Linked DNA regions of Homo sapiens: regions 1 and 3 are each linked to region 2. The links come from fine-mapping of genetic effects on gene expression. A gene starts in region 2. Each other region holds a variant in brackets. All regions are shown on one strand. Distances are between the middles of the regions.

Region 1 (5,479 bases), 170 kb before region 2:
AATGTCTATTGACAGATGAATGAATAAAACTGTAGTATATGAAAACCATGCAGACTTAAAAAGGAAGGAAATCCTGTCATATGCTATAACATAGATGAACCTTGAGAACATTATGCTAAGTGAAACAGCCTAGTCAGAAAAGGACAAATACTGTATGATTCCACTTATATAAAGTATCTAAAGGAGCCAAATTCATAGATACCAACAGTAGAATGGTGGTTACTAGTGGCTGTGGGGAGGCAGCAAAGAGTTGTTGTTGTTTAATGAATATAGAGTTTTAGTTTTGCAAGATGAAAAATTCTAGACAACTATTTCACAACAACGCAAATATAGTTAAAACTACTAAAAGATGCACTTAAAAATGGTAAAGACAGCTGGGCATGGTGGCTCACATCTGTAATCCCAGCACTTTTGGAGGCCGAGGCAGGTGGATCATCTGAGGTCAGGAGTTCAAGACCAGCCTGGCCAACATGGTGAAACCCTGTCTCTACCAAAAACATAAAAAATTAGTCGGGTGTCGTGGTGGGAGCCTGTAATCCCAGGTACTCGGGAGGCTGAGGCAGGAGAATGGCTTGATCCCGGGAGGTGGAGGTTGCAGTGAGCCAAGATTGTGCCATTGCACTCCACCCGGGGTGCCAAGAGCAAGACTCCAACTCAACAAAAACAAAACAAAAAGCAAAAAAACAAAAATGGTTAAGATGGTAAAGTTTATGTGTTTTTTACTGAAATTTTAAAAATATTAAAATGATGTGAGCATAGCCTAATTTAATCATTTCACTACAGCTGGATGTTTAAATGAATATATATATACACACACACATATATTATTATATATATATTTCTTTCTTTCTTTTTTGGGACAGGATTTCATTCTGTTGCCCATGGTGCAACGCAGTGATGTGAACATGGTTCATTGAAGCCTCAACCTCCTGGGCTCAAGTGATCCTCCTGCCTCAGTGTCCTGAGTAGCTGGGACTACAGAAGCAGGCTGCCGTGCTCTGCTAATTTTTAAAAATTTTTGTAAAGACTGGGTCTTATCATGTTGCCCAGGCTGGTCTTGAACTCCTGGGCTCAAAAGATCCTCCCACCTCAGCCTCCCAAAGTGCTGAGACTACAACAGGTGTGAACCACCGCTCCCAGACCAAAAAAATAAAAATAAAAATAAAAATAAAAATAAAAACTTTTAAAACAAGTATTTAAAATAAATATGCAGTAACCTAAAAATTTGTATATCATTTAGAGCAAAATTACAATGTAAAAATTAGATCTCTTAATTAATATTTGCAATGGCAAAAGTTTTCTGTATTAGTAAGTACTAGATACATTTCTGAAGTTTATGAAATAATGTTAAAGATAGTTATCAAAACGAAAACTAATTTTAGCGGTAGTTCATTATACAGTGAATAAATTAGCAGTACTTTTTCAGAAAATCAATCCAATGCTAAATATTCAATCAGCTAATTTTTAAATAACTATGAAAAATACAGTGACACAATGGTGGCAATCTTGTGAATATGGTTGTTTTGGTTCATAATAAGTAAATATGGTTTTTTTCCATTGAGCATAATGAATGTACAATGTTAAACAGAAGACATTAGTAAACAACACTAACCTTTATTCATTTTCTGTATCTATTATTTAAAACCAATAAAATGACATTTGGGGCATGTATTTGTGCCTTCAAATTAACATTTTCCATTAATTCAGACTTGAACTGTCCAAACAGTGAAGACAGGATACAAATATTTTACTTTACAGAATATTTTTAAAAATCAAGATTGTTAGGTTTTTGAATAGAAAGTCTGAAAAGAACATACCACGTAACCTGAATAGATGACACTTGTCCTATTTGGCCAAACAGCCTACCCTGGGATTTCTTTCAAGAACTTTGCCAAGTTCTTTCAAGAACAAGGCAAACTAATGGCTGGTTTAAACCTCCGTATAGTTCCTGACTTTTTAACACTTACACTACCTTCTCTGCTTATACTTTCAGGAAACAAGTTAAAGTATTCCCTGCAAGTCCAAGGAAAGCTTTAAACATCTATTCAAAGATATTTAAAGATTCCTATTTATTTCAAAAACTGTCTAAAGAAACACATTTAACTTATTTTATTAAAAAATACTAAACTATTTTATAAGTATTTCCGATTTACCGTTTTAAAAGACAAGCAAGGGAACAAACCAAAAGGGTATTGCATTAATCATCCTGGGTAGTGATGTATTAAATTACATCCCTGTAAGCAAGGCCGAAAATATTTAAATAAACTGTAATTTTCATAAGCTTAAAATATTATTTTGTAGTTTTGCCATAAAAGAGGGGTAATGGAAGGAGGAGAGAGGGAAGGGAAAGTAGGATTCTGATGGTAAGTTTTCCCACAAACTTTGTTCCTGCTCTGGCTGTTGGCCACCAATAGCTACAGACTTGTTGGGCAAACTGAGCATCTGTAAAATGAGTTAGATGGTAGGCTGAAATTCAGACAGAAGACAGGAAAACATGGTGGCATGAACCATCACAGTATCTGCCTGGGCTTATAGGGCACTCTGGATGTCTAATCAAAGAGATGAAAAATGCAACTAAAACTCACAATGGTATCACTGGTGGTATTATTTTCAATGCTAATCACTGGTAAGTCAAACTCTATTTAATGTTACCATTTGTAAGGTGGTGACTTTAGTAAGTATCTACTATAAAAATGAGATAGAAATGGTTAAATCATTCCTGAAAATAATCATTTTGCCTATATATACAAAGAGCAACAAGAACATACAAACATAGGAAGGAATGCTGACTTCATTTTCTTTTACAAATATTTTTGTGGCTAATTAATAAACGCGATTTTCTGTGCTAACCTATTTTCAACTCTAAGGCTTACTGTAGCATTTTTTTGACTATTAGGAAGACCTTCAAAAGCAATCTGTTTCAGCAAAATTTTGAATATAGCATTATAAAATTAAATTGCCAGGGGCAAGTCAGTAAATACAATTTAGGACTCTAAAATTACTATAAACTTTAATATCCTATTTTTCACCATGGAGAAAAGCATGTTAAGTTTACA[G/A]CTGGAATTTCATTTACTTAAAAAAATTTTTGTTTATGTATTACCAGACATAAGTTTTTTTCTAAGTCACACTGGCAAATAATTATCTTTTCATGTCTAAATACAATTTTAAACCAGTTCATCTGTTAAATCAATACAAGAAAGCACTTTTGTATTATGCTGGCTTTAGTGCAAGTTTTTGAAAGCTGCTAAATACAGTTGAGAATTCATTTTTGAAATACAGCAGTCTCCAAAATTATTTGAAGTATCTGAACTGAATGTTGGGAAAATTCATTAGCATACCATCATATTTTTAACCTAAAGATACCCTTAAGTCTGTTCCAAAAATGTGAAAAATACCATCTACTTTGGCTTTACTGACAATGCTAAAAGTCCACTGATTTTCCACAAAAATTCCACAGCAAAAAAAAAAAGACAAATACAGGATGCTGAAGATACGAAGAATTTGTTTTGAAAGAAAATTTAAGACAACAGTGCTTCAAACTCTCAGGGATATGAAAGGGGGAAAAAAGAGTACAGGAAAATTAAGGCAACAAAATGAAACAGAAAGAATGCTGGTAGAGTTAAGGGGGGAAAGCTGTGTAAAAATAATACTTATATAGAACTAATAAAAACATTGGAACCAACAAGGAATAGAAGCAGTATTGGGGGCCAGGCATGGTGGTTCACATCTGTAATCCCAGCACTTTGGGAGGCCTAGACGGGCAGATCACTTGAGGCCAGGAGTCCAAGACCAACCTGGACAACATGGCGAAACTCTGTCTCTACTAAAAATACAAAAATTAGCTGGGTGTGGTGGCACATGCCTGTAATTCCAGCTACTCAGGAGGCTGAGGCACGAGAATCACTTGAACCCGGTTGGCAAAGGTTGCAGTGAGCCCAGATTGTGCCACTGCACTCCAGCCTGGGCAACAGAAAGAGACCCTGTTTAAAAAAAAAAAAAAGTCACTGATATGGAAGACTTTAAAAATTCATTACTTTCCAAAGTAATGAAATAAATTCAAGAATCTTAAAACAAAGTTTCTTGAAATAAAGAAAAAATCAAAACTGCAGATGAAAAAAGCAGCTCATTGTGTCTCAGGGAGAAAAATCTGTAGAAAATTATTGAGACCAAGTTATATTCTGTTGAGATTACTAATTTTGAAGACAAAGAAAGAAATGCCAGCTTTTGCTACAATCAGGTAGTAACAGCAAGTTATCTACCAGGGGAAAAATATCAGTTAGGCCTTACATTTCTTTCCAACAATATTCAAGGGAAAAAAATGTCTATAGAGTTTTTTGAGGGTAGAGGGAGAAGAACGTGTGATGCAATCATTTTATACCTAGTCAAATCGTCATTCTCATTCAAAGGCAACAGAAAGACATCTGTAATATTCTTTTATAGGAGGAATATTTATTGCAGTGTCCGTTACATGCTTACACTGTCCCAAGTGGTGAAATATAGCAGTGAGGATAGATAATCGCTATTCTCATTGATCTTACATTCTAGGAGAGAGACAAACACAATATATACACGTATACATATAAACAAACAAGAAAAGTATCAGGCACTCACGTGTCCTATGCAGCGAACTAAAATAACAAGGGCATTGGCCTCTCCGAGGATATGATATTTATTTAAGCTGAGGTCTGAATGACCAGGAGCCTTCAGAGCAAAGATCTTGAAAAACAGTTACCTCAGGCAAAAGGGAAGAATTGCTTTAATCTTGGACTGTTTAAATAAAAAGAAAACAGAGGCATAGTAGAGTAGGCAGAAACATATGCGATGAGCTCAGAGAGGTGGATAGAACAGATCATGTAGGGTTTTATAAACAAGGCTAAAAATCTGAGTATTTTTCTAAGTTGATATGAAAGCTTCAGGGAAGTGTTAAGCAGAAGTGATGATATGATTTATGTTTTTAAAAGTTCACTCCAGAGGCTTTCTGGAAAATAGATGGTGGGGAATGGGAGGTGTGGGCAAGGCAACAGGCACTAGAAGGGTGGAGATGGGTAACAAAGACAAGTAGATGGATTCAGGATGTGTTCTGGAGGTAGAGCTGAGGGAACTTGCTGACAGACTGATTCTTGAGCACAAATAAAAGAGAGAAATCGAGGTTAATGCCTACATTTGTGGATGGGTTAACTGCTTAGCAAAATGCAGAAGAAAAGCAGGTTTGAGAAGAATAATCAATTTATGGATTTAAATTATAATATTCCTAATACGGGAAAATCTTTTTGATAATATGACTTAGCCTATTGATAGTTGATACTAAGTAGGTGAGAATGGAAAGGAAATGGCATAAAAAGACCAATGGTGGGTAGTAAATCTACTAAATATAAAACTAAGTCTAAATAATTGGTCATGGCATTTATAAATTATAAATATTATATTTCTTAAAAGAAGGTACACATAGTAATACATACTCATACCCCAGTGCAATCAG
Region 2 (5,479 bases):
TCTATGAACTACACATTAATGAAATGCTCATGAATTAATGTATAAAAATAGGAAATAATATAACAAATTGATAGTTTCTAGTTAAGTAGTTTATTTTGTTGTTCTCACTTCATTTTAGAAACTGCCAAAAATCCTTCTTGAAGCAAACACAATTTCAAAAATAGAACTTAATGCTACTCCCAAATATGTAAAAGTGGATTCCTTTAAAAATTAAAAAATTAGTAGCTCTTTCTTCTCTTGGAATTACCTAGCACTAGCACAGTAATCAAAAGCTAGAAAGCCAAAAATTTATGTATGAAAATTGAAAATAAAAAGCTCTCATTTCAAAGAAGCACACAAATGTAGAAGTGGCTCAAAAAACCAAGCCTGAAACTATGTAATTATAATTCAAAATAGTAGATAATAGAACAACAGCTTTTAGGATACAGTACTTTTAAACACGAAACTTGAAAACAGCTTAAGACATTCCCAGTTAGAAAGCAAATACCTTTAAAACAAGACAAAAACCTGAATATGCAGACCCTCTTATTATTCATCAAGTAAACAATATTGGAGACACTCATATTAATAAGCTTCAGAAACTAACACTGGACAGAAACAAATATCTGAATAAATAAGGCTCAACACTTGATGTAACGACAACAAAACAAAGTAGATCAAAAGTTATTTGCTTAACTGTGACAAACATTAACAAAACTGCACGTTCTACACATGTACCCCAGAACTTAAAGTATAATAAAAAGTGTGACAAACATAATTCACGATTTCAAGTAATGTCTGATAAACTTTATTTGCAGCAAACAGCAAGCTATCACTTAAAAACAGCCAGAAACCTAACTGCATGTGTGACTGAAAATCAAGTTGTTAAAAAAAAAAAAAAACAACTTAAAAATCAAGTTTCGAGTTACTGATGTACTCAACTGACATATATTTTGTTGAAAGTATTGCAAGTACCACCATAAATCTGGAAGGCTGACAATGTGGTTATGATGGAAAAACATGCTCTCCCATCTGTGTGATCTTGGGCAAATACTAGAAACCTAACTTTCCCAATTACAATATGAGGTAATACTTAAGTCACAAGGTTACTACCAGCTTCCAAGAAGGAAACTTAAGCAAAGGGCCCAGGGCGCAGTAAGAGCACCAAAATACCAGCTCCATGCCTCACAAATGTCCTGAACACACAAGAATTAAAAATTCAAGAGATTCAACTCAAAAATCAAATACTTACATTAAGAAGAAAAGCAGCGGGGGACCGGAGGTGGGGATTGGGAGTGGGATCTACCCTATTAAAAAAAAAAACTTTTCGAGGGGGGGGTTCTCTAATACGATAGAAATTATTTTGAGTTGCCTTCTTGGAATCTCACGAATATAGCCAAATACAAAGGCTTTTGGCTCTCTGCTCTGCTGTGTAAGAGTGATGAGGCTTTGGGTGGCGGCTACAAGAACGACGGTATGCTTTTCACCTTCTCAAGTCTGCATCCGGCAGCAGGACTAAGGAATTCTGCCCCAGAGTTCGCACAACTTGCAGCACAGTCGAGAGACACCCGCAATGTTTGCAAACATGACGCACATCTCGACGCATCTAAAAGAGTAAAAAGTGTCCCTGTCTAATTACTTTTACTCCTATAGCATTAGGTGATAAGCAATTTAAATGTTTCCTACTCTCTCTTCCAGTAATCAAAACCAACAACTCTGCCTGGTGGGGCGAGGAAGTCTGTTATTTTTAGGGGGTGCTCTTGGGGGGGTTAGGCGCGGGGGGGACTAACCCAAGTTTCTTACTCTTATGGGCTTTCAATCAACGAATACCACTTCAGACACAAGAAAATCTCAAAACCAGTATTTCACGCGACCAAGGACGAAGGAGAAGCCCTGGAGACCCGCCGGCGCCCCCGCCAGGGTCCCCGGAGCACCTGGCCGCCTGGGCCAGGTGTGGGCACGCCCCGCCTGACACTCACTCCGAAGCAGAGGCGACGTCTCCTTCTTCACGTACTTCCCCTGCACCTCGGCCGGCTTGGACACTTCGTTTTTGGTTTTCTTTCGGGACAGCATCCTTCTCGACGAGGCCCGAGGCCGCGCTGAACTGCCTCCCTAGGGCTCCGCGCCGGGCGCCGGCCGTCTCCGCCGCCACCTCCGCCGGCGCCGCCGCCTCCTTCCCTCCCGAGCCGCCGCCTCCGCCGCCGCCTGTCCGGAGCCCGGGGTCGCCCGCAGGGACTGCCGCATGTTCAGGGCGCTAAGCGCGCCGGCCGCCGCTCAGTCGCTGGTCAGTTCCTTCCCGGAAGTCGGCCCGCTCTGCGACGCTGCTCGGGGACGCCGTGAGGAAAGCCCAGCGACGCCGGGCCAGGGCCAGGGCCATGGTCCGCCGCGGGCCGCCGAATAACCGCTACCACTACCGCCGCCGCCGCCTACATCCCGTAAACTTTCCCCGCGGCCGCTGGGAATTCTGGGAAGCTCGACGCAGCGCGGGCCGCCGCTGCCCCTCCCCCACCGCGGCTCCAGGCGCGGCTCCGGCGGCGGGACTCGGGTGCCGGCGCTCTAGGCTACCGGGCCGTCCCCGCCGAGCTGCGGCTGTCCTCACTCATCCTCAGCGAGAAGCAGGTCCTGCCGACTGAGAAGATGAAGGACGAAACCTGCCCCGCTGAGTGCGGGAGTTCGTCGCATGCGCATGTCGTGGAACCTACTCTCCACGAGTTTTTATTGTTGTTGCTTTTGTACCCCCTCGGGATCCCTAGCGGAGGCAGTGACTCTCTTTCCCCCCAAGACGTTGTTCCCTGTTTGAAGGTGTTCTTCCTAATGTTTCCTAGGCTGCTGAATTCAGCTCTCTAAAAAATGCGGAATGCTAACCATGACTCCCAGGCAAGTGCTACACCAAAGCATCTATTCTGCTGGAAACGTTCATGCTGATTAACTAGAAATAAGTTGATCCTCTACTGAGTATCAGGGAGTGCGTTTTTCTATAACAGGAAAAAACGGAAGAATGCAAGATGGAATTTCCAGTACCTCTTTTTAAGATACAATTGGTGTTAGCATATTACAATTATTTTATTGCATCATCACTATCATTAGTATGATTAATAGCCACATATTTCCTCCTGACGTTATGTGTTATGATCTTAGAATTTTGAAGACTTTGACCACTGCGAGTCGGGACCGGGAATTTTCTATCTAAAATAATAGACTCTACTTCCTTCTATATAACTTAGCAAGACTGCCAAATGTACAGGATAACATTTGGAAAATAAGATTGGATTCATCCCCTAGTGACCAAATTAATGCTTTAATAATGAGGAATGCTTTCCCTGAGATCTAAAACATCTCACAAGAGATCTAAGACATATATCACAATTAACAAAAGACATGGAATTTTTTACCACGTAAGATTAAGAAGATGGTCAAATGTTTTACCATGAGCAAACAAAGGAGACATTTGATCTAGTGTCTGTCTCCATATGTTCCCTTGGTGCAGATCTCCCACAATTCATTCATTAACCAGGAAATACTCATTACCCACTGCGCTAGTCGTTTGTGATAGAGCAATAAGCAAAACAGACAAAAATCCCTACTGTCATGGGAAAGAGAAAAAAATGACAAAAAATAAGCAAAACATACTATGTTAGATAGTGATAAGTGATGAAGTGAAAATAAGAGAGGACTCACAATTTTTGAGAGGGTAATAGAGGGACCAGAGAAGGCTCATGAGGAGGTGACATTGGAGTTAAGTGACAGAGTGAGGAAATTGGCCATGCAGCTAACTGGAGGAACAATATTCCAGGCAGAAAGAACAGCAAGTGCAAAGTCGCTGCAAGTGGCCATGTTCCTGGCAGATTGGAGGAACAGTAAGAGGGTTTATGTACTGGAAAAGACGGGGAGACGAATGGGGAATGCAGTTAGAGAGTAACAATAGCCACGGCACCTAGGGCTTTGTAGGCCATTGTAAGGAATGTTACTTTGAGCAGAGGAGTGACATGATCTGAGTTAATGTTTTCATAGGACTGCTTTGGATGCTGTGTGGAGAGTAGACAATGGAGCTAAGGGCAAAAGGGAGATCAGTCAGAAGTTATTGCTGGCTTGGACCCAGGCAATAATAGGTGGAGAGGTAAGTGGACATATTTTAGACATATTTTAAAGAAAGCCAACCAAATTTGCTGACATTGAATATGGAGTGTGGGAGTATCAATCACTGCCATGGGTATGAAAATCTTAATAAACAGAATTGGAACTCACTAGAAGCAGAGTGTACTCTGAGAGAAACATTAGAAAAACAGTTACTTGTTCCTGTGGTTCAGAAATAAGGACGAGTCCTAAAGCGTTGATAGTGTGCAGGGAGAAGAAAGAGTGATGAAACTTAAGTGAGAGCACAATGGGGTTTTGTTACACATCAGGGTATGAAGGCGGGAGCTGAAGGAGGAAGGGGGAGCCAAAGAAGTGCCAGGTTTCTGCCTAAGGCTTACCTCAGAGAAGGACAAAAGGATATTAGCATCTTGTTAATAAAGGCAACTCTTCACACCTGGAGTTTTCCCAGAGCCTGAAGTACGGGGACACCTTTCACATGTGCGGAGGAAAGAATCCTAGAATTTTATAGTTGAAAAAGAATTCTGAGATTGCCTAGGCTCACCTCATCAACATCAAAAAGGAACGAGAAAAATTAAGTGTTTTGTCTCAGATTACATTCCTGGTTAATGACAGAATAGCATCAGAACTGGAGTTTTCAATTCCCTTTTTTTCCCCCCTGAGGCAGAGTCTTGCTCTATCCCTCAGGCAGGAGTGCAGTAGCACTATCTCAGCTCACTGCAACTGCTGCCTCTCAGGTTCAAGCGATCCTCCTACCTTGGCCTCCTGACTAGCTAGGATTACAAGCGCCCGCCACCACACCTGGCTATTTTTTGTATTTTTAGTAGAGACTGGATTTCATCATGTTGGCCAGGCTGGTCCCGAACTCCTGGCCTCAAGTGATCTGCCCGCCTCGGCCTCCCAAAGTGCTGCAATTGTAGGCGTGAGCCACCAGGCCAGCCTCAATTTCCGTTTGGGGCTCTTTACTGCTACGGAACATTCAGAATCCCACTAATGTGAGTCCAGACTGTTTCTAACAGTTGTTTTGAAAGCCGTCTGTGTTCCTTAGAGAGTACTCCCTTTTACAATGCTATTTAATTTCTGTGGATTATAGCAGAGAGAAAGCCTTAATTAGGTGCTCTATTTAAGACAACTAATTTGCCTTTTTATCAAGGAGGGTACATTCCAGAATCAACAATGTGCAGGCAGCATTAGCTATAGCAATGCACAACAAATATGTGAACTTTGAATTTGAATCCTTAAATCTAAAAGCTTTGAATTCATGTTTGTTTTCTAGAAATTCCTTGACTTCTGAGAATTTTTATTAAGGAATTCAGATTTGCTGTAGTTCTACGGAGCTGTAATTCTCCAGACATTGCCTTCAATAATGCTAATACTGCATTCCATAATAGAGATTTTTTTTTTCCCC
Region 3 (5,479 bases), 36 kb after region 2:
AGTGAGCTGAGATAGAGCCATTGCTCAGTTTGGGCAATGGGAGTGAAACCCTGTTTCAGAGGCAATCTGGCTACATTTTGGTAGAGCGGTTGTGCTGTGCTGGGGGTCTCCTTCAGTGCCGGACACTCCAAAGCTCAAAGGCCAGAATAGCTAAGTGACCCAAACAGCGAAGATGATGGCCTGCACCTCCATCTGGGAGCTCCAGCCTGGGGAGGCTTGAAACTTCTCTCAGCTGAAGAACACTCGTGGGGATAGCTTCAGACCCTTCCTGGTGATCAGGAGTAGGATCAGGGACCTGCTTGAAAAAGCAGTCTGGCTGTGTTTTGGTAGGGCAGCTGTGCTGTGCTGGGGATCCACTTCAGCCCCTGGTCATCTTGGACTCTCCAAAGTCCAAAGGCTAGAATAGCTAAGTTACCCAAACAGTAAAGATGGTGGCCCACCCTTCCCTCTGGGATTTCTGTCCCAGGAAGTTTTCAAATCTGTGTTTGCCAGACAGCACTGGTGGGGGTGGCTGGAGGCCCCAGTTGAGAATTCCTGCCCAGTGAGGAGGAACAGAATTGGGGACCGGCTTAAAAAAGCAGTCTGGCCATGTTTCACAGGGCAGCTGTACTGTGCCGGGGTACTGCTTCTGCCTGGTCAGAGGTTGACTTGGACTCTCCAAAGCCTAAAGACTAGAAATACTATCACCCAAACAGCAAAGATAGCAGCCCACCCCTCCCGCTGGGAGCTCCATCCCAGGGAGGCTCCAAATCTCTGTTGGCTGGAGAACATGGGCGCAGGTGGCTGGAGGCTCTGGTGATCCTGCCCAGTGAGGAGGGATTGGGGACCTGCTTAAAAGAGCAGTCTGACCACGTTTTATAAAGCAGCTGTGCTGGGGCATCCCTTCCGCCCCTGGTCAGCTTAGACTCTCCAAAGCTTGGAGGCTGGAACGGCTAAGTTGCCCAAACAGCAAAGATGGCAGCCCACCCTTCCCTGCTGGAGTTTTATCCCAGGGAGGTGCAATGCTGCTACCAGTGGCTGTCTGGAGTTCTAAGCCAGTGGGTCTTCATCTTGTGAGGTTTGTGGAAGTGGGGCCTGCAGATTGTCACTGCTCAGCCCCCTGGATTCAGCCTTTTTCCTAAGGATATGTACAGAGGTCAAACCTCCCGCTTTGCTGGAGTTGCAACTACTTTTGCTGGGAAGTCTGGAGAGTCCGAGTATCAAGGCTTTCCTGGGTCTCCACATGTGCCTGAGTGGCTGTTCTGTTGAGACTCCATGTAGCTGTGTGTGTCAGTCAGAAGGCCCTGGTGGAGTGGGTTCACAAGGAGATCTCCTGACCCAAGGATTGCAAAGATCCATGGGAGAAGCATGGGTTCCTGGGGTTGTACATTCATGTGCCACTACCCAGGGTCGGGGGAGGTTCCCTTGGCTCCATGTTGCTCCTGGGTGGGCCATCATCCTGCCTTACTTTTCTCCATCCTCCATGGGTCAAGTTGCTTCCTTGATTAGTCCCAATGTGAGTAACTAGATGTTTAAGTTGAAGGTGCTGTATTTACTTGCTCTTTCTGTTCCTCTCCATGAGAGCTACGTATATTACCTGCTTCTAGTCAACCATCTTGGCCACCTCCAGCACCTAGGATCCTTTAAAATGTATTGAAACTTGTTTTATACCCCCGAACGTGGCTGATCTTTGTTAATTTTCCATGTGTTCTTAAAAAGAATGTGTATTCTGCTGCTGCTGTTGAGTGGAATGTTTTATAACAAGTTTGTTGTCAATGTTCAATTCTTCTACATCTGTGGTAGGCAAATTAAATATCACACAAAGATTTCCATGTCTGAATCTTTAGAAGTTGTGAGTATGTTATTTCAGTTGACAAAAGGGATTTTGCAGACATGATTCAGGTTAAGGAAACTTAGATGGATATTTAGATGAAGCCTAGGTTGTCCAGGTGGGTCCAGTCTAATCACATGAGTTTTTTTGTTTTTGATTTTGTTTTAACCTATGAGTCTGCCTTTTTATTGCAAGACAACAGGTAGAAGAAACCACACAAACATATAAGGCAAACACTCTTAGAACGATCATCCAGGTTATGAAATAGAAGTTTTCCAGCAATCCCAGACTCTTCATGTACACCTTCTTCACTTTAACCTGTCCCACTATAGAGATTAGTTTTAGTTTTCTATATCATCTAACTAGTTTAATAATTCCATCAGAGATGGATCAGTTTAAAAATTGGAATCTGTTACATAGAAGCTATCCGCATTGGATAGAGCAGGGCTCAGCAGACCCTACGTTTGAATGACTAAGTTGACTTGCTCAGATTGTCCTGGGAGGGAAGACACAAATGCAAGAAGTGTCTCCATAGTACTGCTTTGCTTTTATCATTGTCATCTCAGCCATCGCCTCTGGAGGCCTGTGAAATTGGAGCAGCCAGCCCTGGAAGTGGTGCCCAAAGCCTGTCTCACTGGCTTCATCTTTTGGAGGGGTGGGCAACAGCATTTGTCAGAAATCTTGACAGCTGAGGATCCTTTTCCTCTGAGCTAGAGGTCTTGGCTGGGCTCCAGGGGAGGCTTGAGCTGCCCCACGGAGACCATGGTGCTGAGCTGTCCCGAGGCACAGCTTGCAGGTGGGAAGGCGACCAAGTCTGAGTCCTTGTTCTCACTCTGATCACTGTGCTGCTGCTTGTGGCATCTCAGAGTCATCCCTGACAAAGGCGGCGCCGCAGGTCTCACAGCGAAAGGCCCTCTGCCTCACGATCTTGGCCACGTGTCGGGAGCTGCTCTGTGAGCCCTTCCTTGCCCGGAGAGGCCCAGTTCTCTGTCTTGGCCTCATCCTTGTGCACCCTGTCGATGCGCTTGGCCAGGCTGCTGGGCCACTTCGCGTCGGAGCTGCAGAAGTCACACTTGAAGTTTCAGTCCTTACAGTGGACTCCGCTGTGTATGCACAGGGCGGCTGCGCTGGAGCAGGAGTTGCACTCAGGACACTTCTCTGGGTGGTCGGCCTGGTGCAGCCAGCTATGCTCCAGGAAGTCAGCCCATCCTGGCCCTGGAAGGCACAGTGCAGACACTTGAAGGTGTGCTTGATGCGGATGTGCGATTTGAGATTCGCCTTCATGGTGCAGCGGACGTCGCTGCAGAACTCGCACTCGAAAGGCTTCTCCCCCAGTGCACGATCATGTGCCTTTTCAAGTCTGAGCTGATTTTGAACTTGGCGCTACAGAGCCAGCACTGGAAGGAGATATCCCCAGTGTGGGATCGCAGGTGGACGGTGAGCTGGCTGGAGTTGCGGCTGACATAGGGGCAGAGCTGGCATTTGTATGGCTGCTCGTCCGAGTGGATCCGTAGGTGCTTCTTGAGGCTCCTGCTGTCCACGGCAGCATAGTCACACA[G/A]GTAACACTCGTGCGGCATCACATGTGCATGGTCAGGTTGTCCTTCCGCTGAAGCACTTGTCACAGAACTCACACTTGAGCGGTTCGTCACCCGTTGTGGATTCTGAGATAGCGGTCCAAGTCTTTCATGCCATGGAGAGTTTTGAAGTGGCAACCTGGGTAGCAACAGTCGAATGTCCTCTCTCCAAGGGCGGCTGTTTCTTCCCTTGACTCTGAGGGAAGAGTGATGACAGGGGCCTTCTGCTTTCAGTCACTGCTTTCAGTGGAGAGGCAGGTTGCTTTTGGAATATCATTATCCAGTTCTGAAGCTGCACAACTCGCTCCTTCCCATCCTTCGGGCCTTCACTCGAAGGTCCGCTCCTTGGTGAGGATTTCCCTGGACAACGCATTTGAAACCTAACCCCAGGGCAGGGAGCCACCTTCCAGGTGCGCAGCCGAAGCCCAGTGCCAAGGAGGCCGGGGACTTGGGTGCCCGCGTACACCGAAAACAGTCTCTGAGGGGTCCTCAGAGCATCTTTCCAGCATGTTTTTAACAGCAGAGAAACTTTCCCAGCTCTAATCAGAGGGAGAGGTCATTATGGAAAAAGGGTCAGAAATATAATGTTGTTGACTTATAAAGATGGAAAAAGGAGGCCATGAGCCAAAAAGTGTAAGTGACCTCTAGAAGCTAGAAAAGACAAAGAAGTAGAAACGAATGTACCTTGCTGACATCTTGGGTGTGTGTGTGTGTGTGTGTGTGTGTGTGCGCGCACGTATGTTTCTCAATGAAATGTTAAACTTCGAGCCTGTAGTACTATAAAATAATAAATCTGTATTTTTAAATGACTAAATTCTTGGTAATTTGTTGCAGCACCAAGAGAAAACTAATACATTTGCCAACGTAGTTGGCATTTCTTGTGAGTGTGTGTGTGAGTGTGTGTGTGAGTGTGAGTGTGTGTATGGATGTTTCTTTAGATTCACATTTCTAATTGGTATCACTCTGTAATTTTTTAAACACTTACAGTGGAGGTCTACTAGCAATGTAATATTTCAGCTTATGTCTGAAAGTTCCTATTTCACCTTCATTTTTTGAAGATATCTTCGTTGGGTAAAGAATTTGAGGCGGCCGGGCGCTGTGGCTCACGCCTGTAATCCCAGCACTTTGGGAGGCCAAGGCGGGCGGATCACGAGGTCAGGAGATCGAGACCATCCCGGCTAAAACGGTGAAACCCCGTCTCTACTAAAGATACAAAAAATTAGCTGGGCGTGGTGGCGGGCGCCTGTAGTCCCAGCTACTTGGGAGGCTGAGGCAGGAGAATGGCGTGAACCCGGGAGGCGGAGCTTGCAGTGAGCCGAGATCCCGCCACTGCACTCCAGCCTGGGCGACAGAGCGAGACTCCGTCTCAAAAAAAAAAAAAAAAAAGAATTTGAGGCTAGTTTCATTTCCTTCAGTACTGTATAGATGCAATATTTTCTTGCATTCTTTCTGATGAAAAATCTGTCATCTTTATTTTTGTTTCTCTGTACATAATGTATCTGTTTCTCTAGCTGCTGAAAAATGAGTGGGATTTATATTTCAAACAATGGTTTAAGGTACTACAAAAAGGTAATTTTTGGTGAAAAATGGATCAACTAATACTAGGTTGACCAAAGATCTGATTTGTCTGTATATATACTATATATCATATATATAGTAATTGTATATGTAATTATATGTGAATATATAGTAATGGTTCTCAAAATTTTTGGTCTTAGGATTACTTTGTACTCTTATAAACTATTGAGGACCTCAGAGATTTTGCTTATGTGAATTATATCTAGCAACATTTATCATGTTAGAAGAGAAAAACTTTAAAGTATTTATATATTTTAAAATACTGAAAATAAGCCTATTTCATGTTTAACACCATAACATACTTTCATGAGAAATAAACATATATTCCAAAACAAAGTATTTGAGAAGAGCTGTGAAGAAATCTCTTAAATGTCTGGCTTAATAGAGAGTAGCTGAATTATCCCATTTGTTTCTGCATTTGTTCTGTTTTATCATGTATCATTTTGGTTGAAGTATATGGAAAAAAACCTGATCTCACAGAGGCAAGTACTGTAGTTAGAAAAGGGAAAAGTATTTT

Which allele goes with the higher level. Alleles are on the strand shown, and positions count from the first base shown. SD is a standard deviation of normalised expression in the study named. Not every link is listed here.
In carriers of allele G in region 3, the expression in thyroid of the gene that starts at base 2,391 in region 2 tends to be lower than with A alone (small effect, 0.23 SD a copy in GTEx).

Evidence for each region. PIP is the estimated chance that this variant, and not a neighbour inherited with it, causes the effect. A credible set is the group of variants that fine-mapping cannot tell apart.
Region 1: its variant is the best candidate, but not a certain one, in a credible set for the expression of SAV1 in regulatory T cells (Bossini-Castillo 2019, PIP 0.68).
Region 3: its variant is the best candidate, but not a certain one, in a credible set for the expression of SAV1 in thyroid (GTEx, PIP 0.86).

Annotation. Positions count from the first base shown.
Region 1 is chr14:50,495,671-50,501,149 of GRCh38, forward strand. The region is part of intron 3 of MAP4K5 (mitogen-activated protein kinase kinase kinase kinase 5); the gene reads right to left. Among named protein-coding and RNA genes, the nearest start is that of MAP4K5, 34 kb to the right of the region's middle. The variant G/A (reference allele first, on the strand shown) is at 3,057.
Region 2 is chr14:50,665,916-50,671,394 of GRCh38, forward strand. SAV1 (salvador family WW domain containing protein 1) reads right to left here and starts at 2,391. Exons shown (of 5, transcript NM_021818.4): 1 at 1,959-2,391. The coding sequence starts at 2,052. RefSeq lists an enhancer at 1,389-1,458 and silencers at 1,819-1,948, 2,059-2,628.
Region 3 is chr14:50,701,836-50,707,314 of GRCh38, forward strand. It overlaps the pseudogene ZFP64P1. Among named protein-coding and RNA genes, the nearest start is that of SAV1, 36 kb to the left of the region's middle. The variant G/A (reference allele first, on the strand shown) is at 3,369.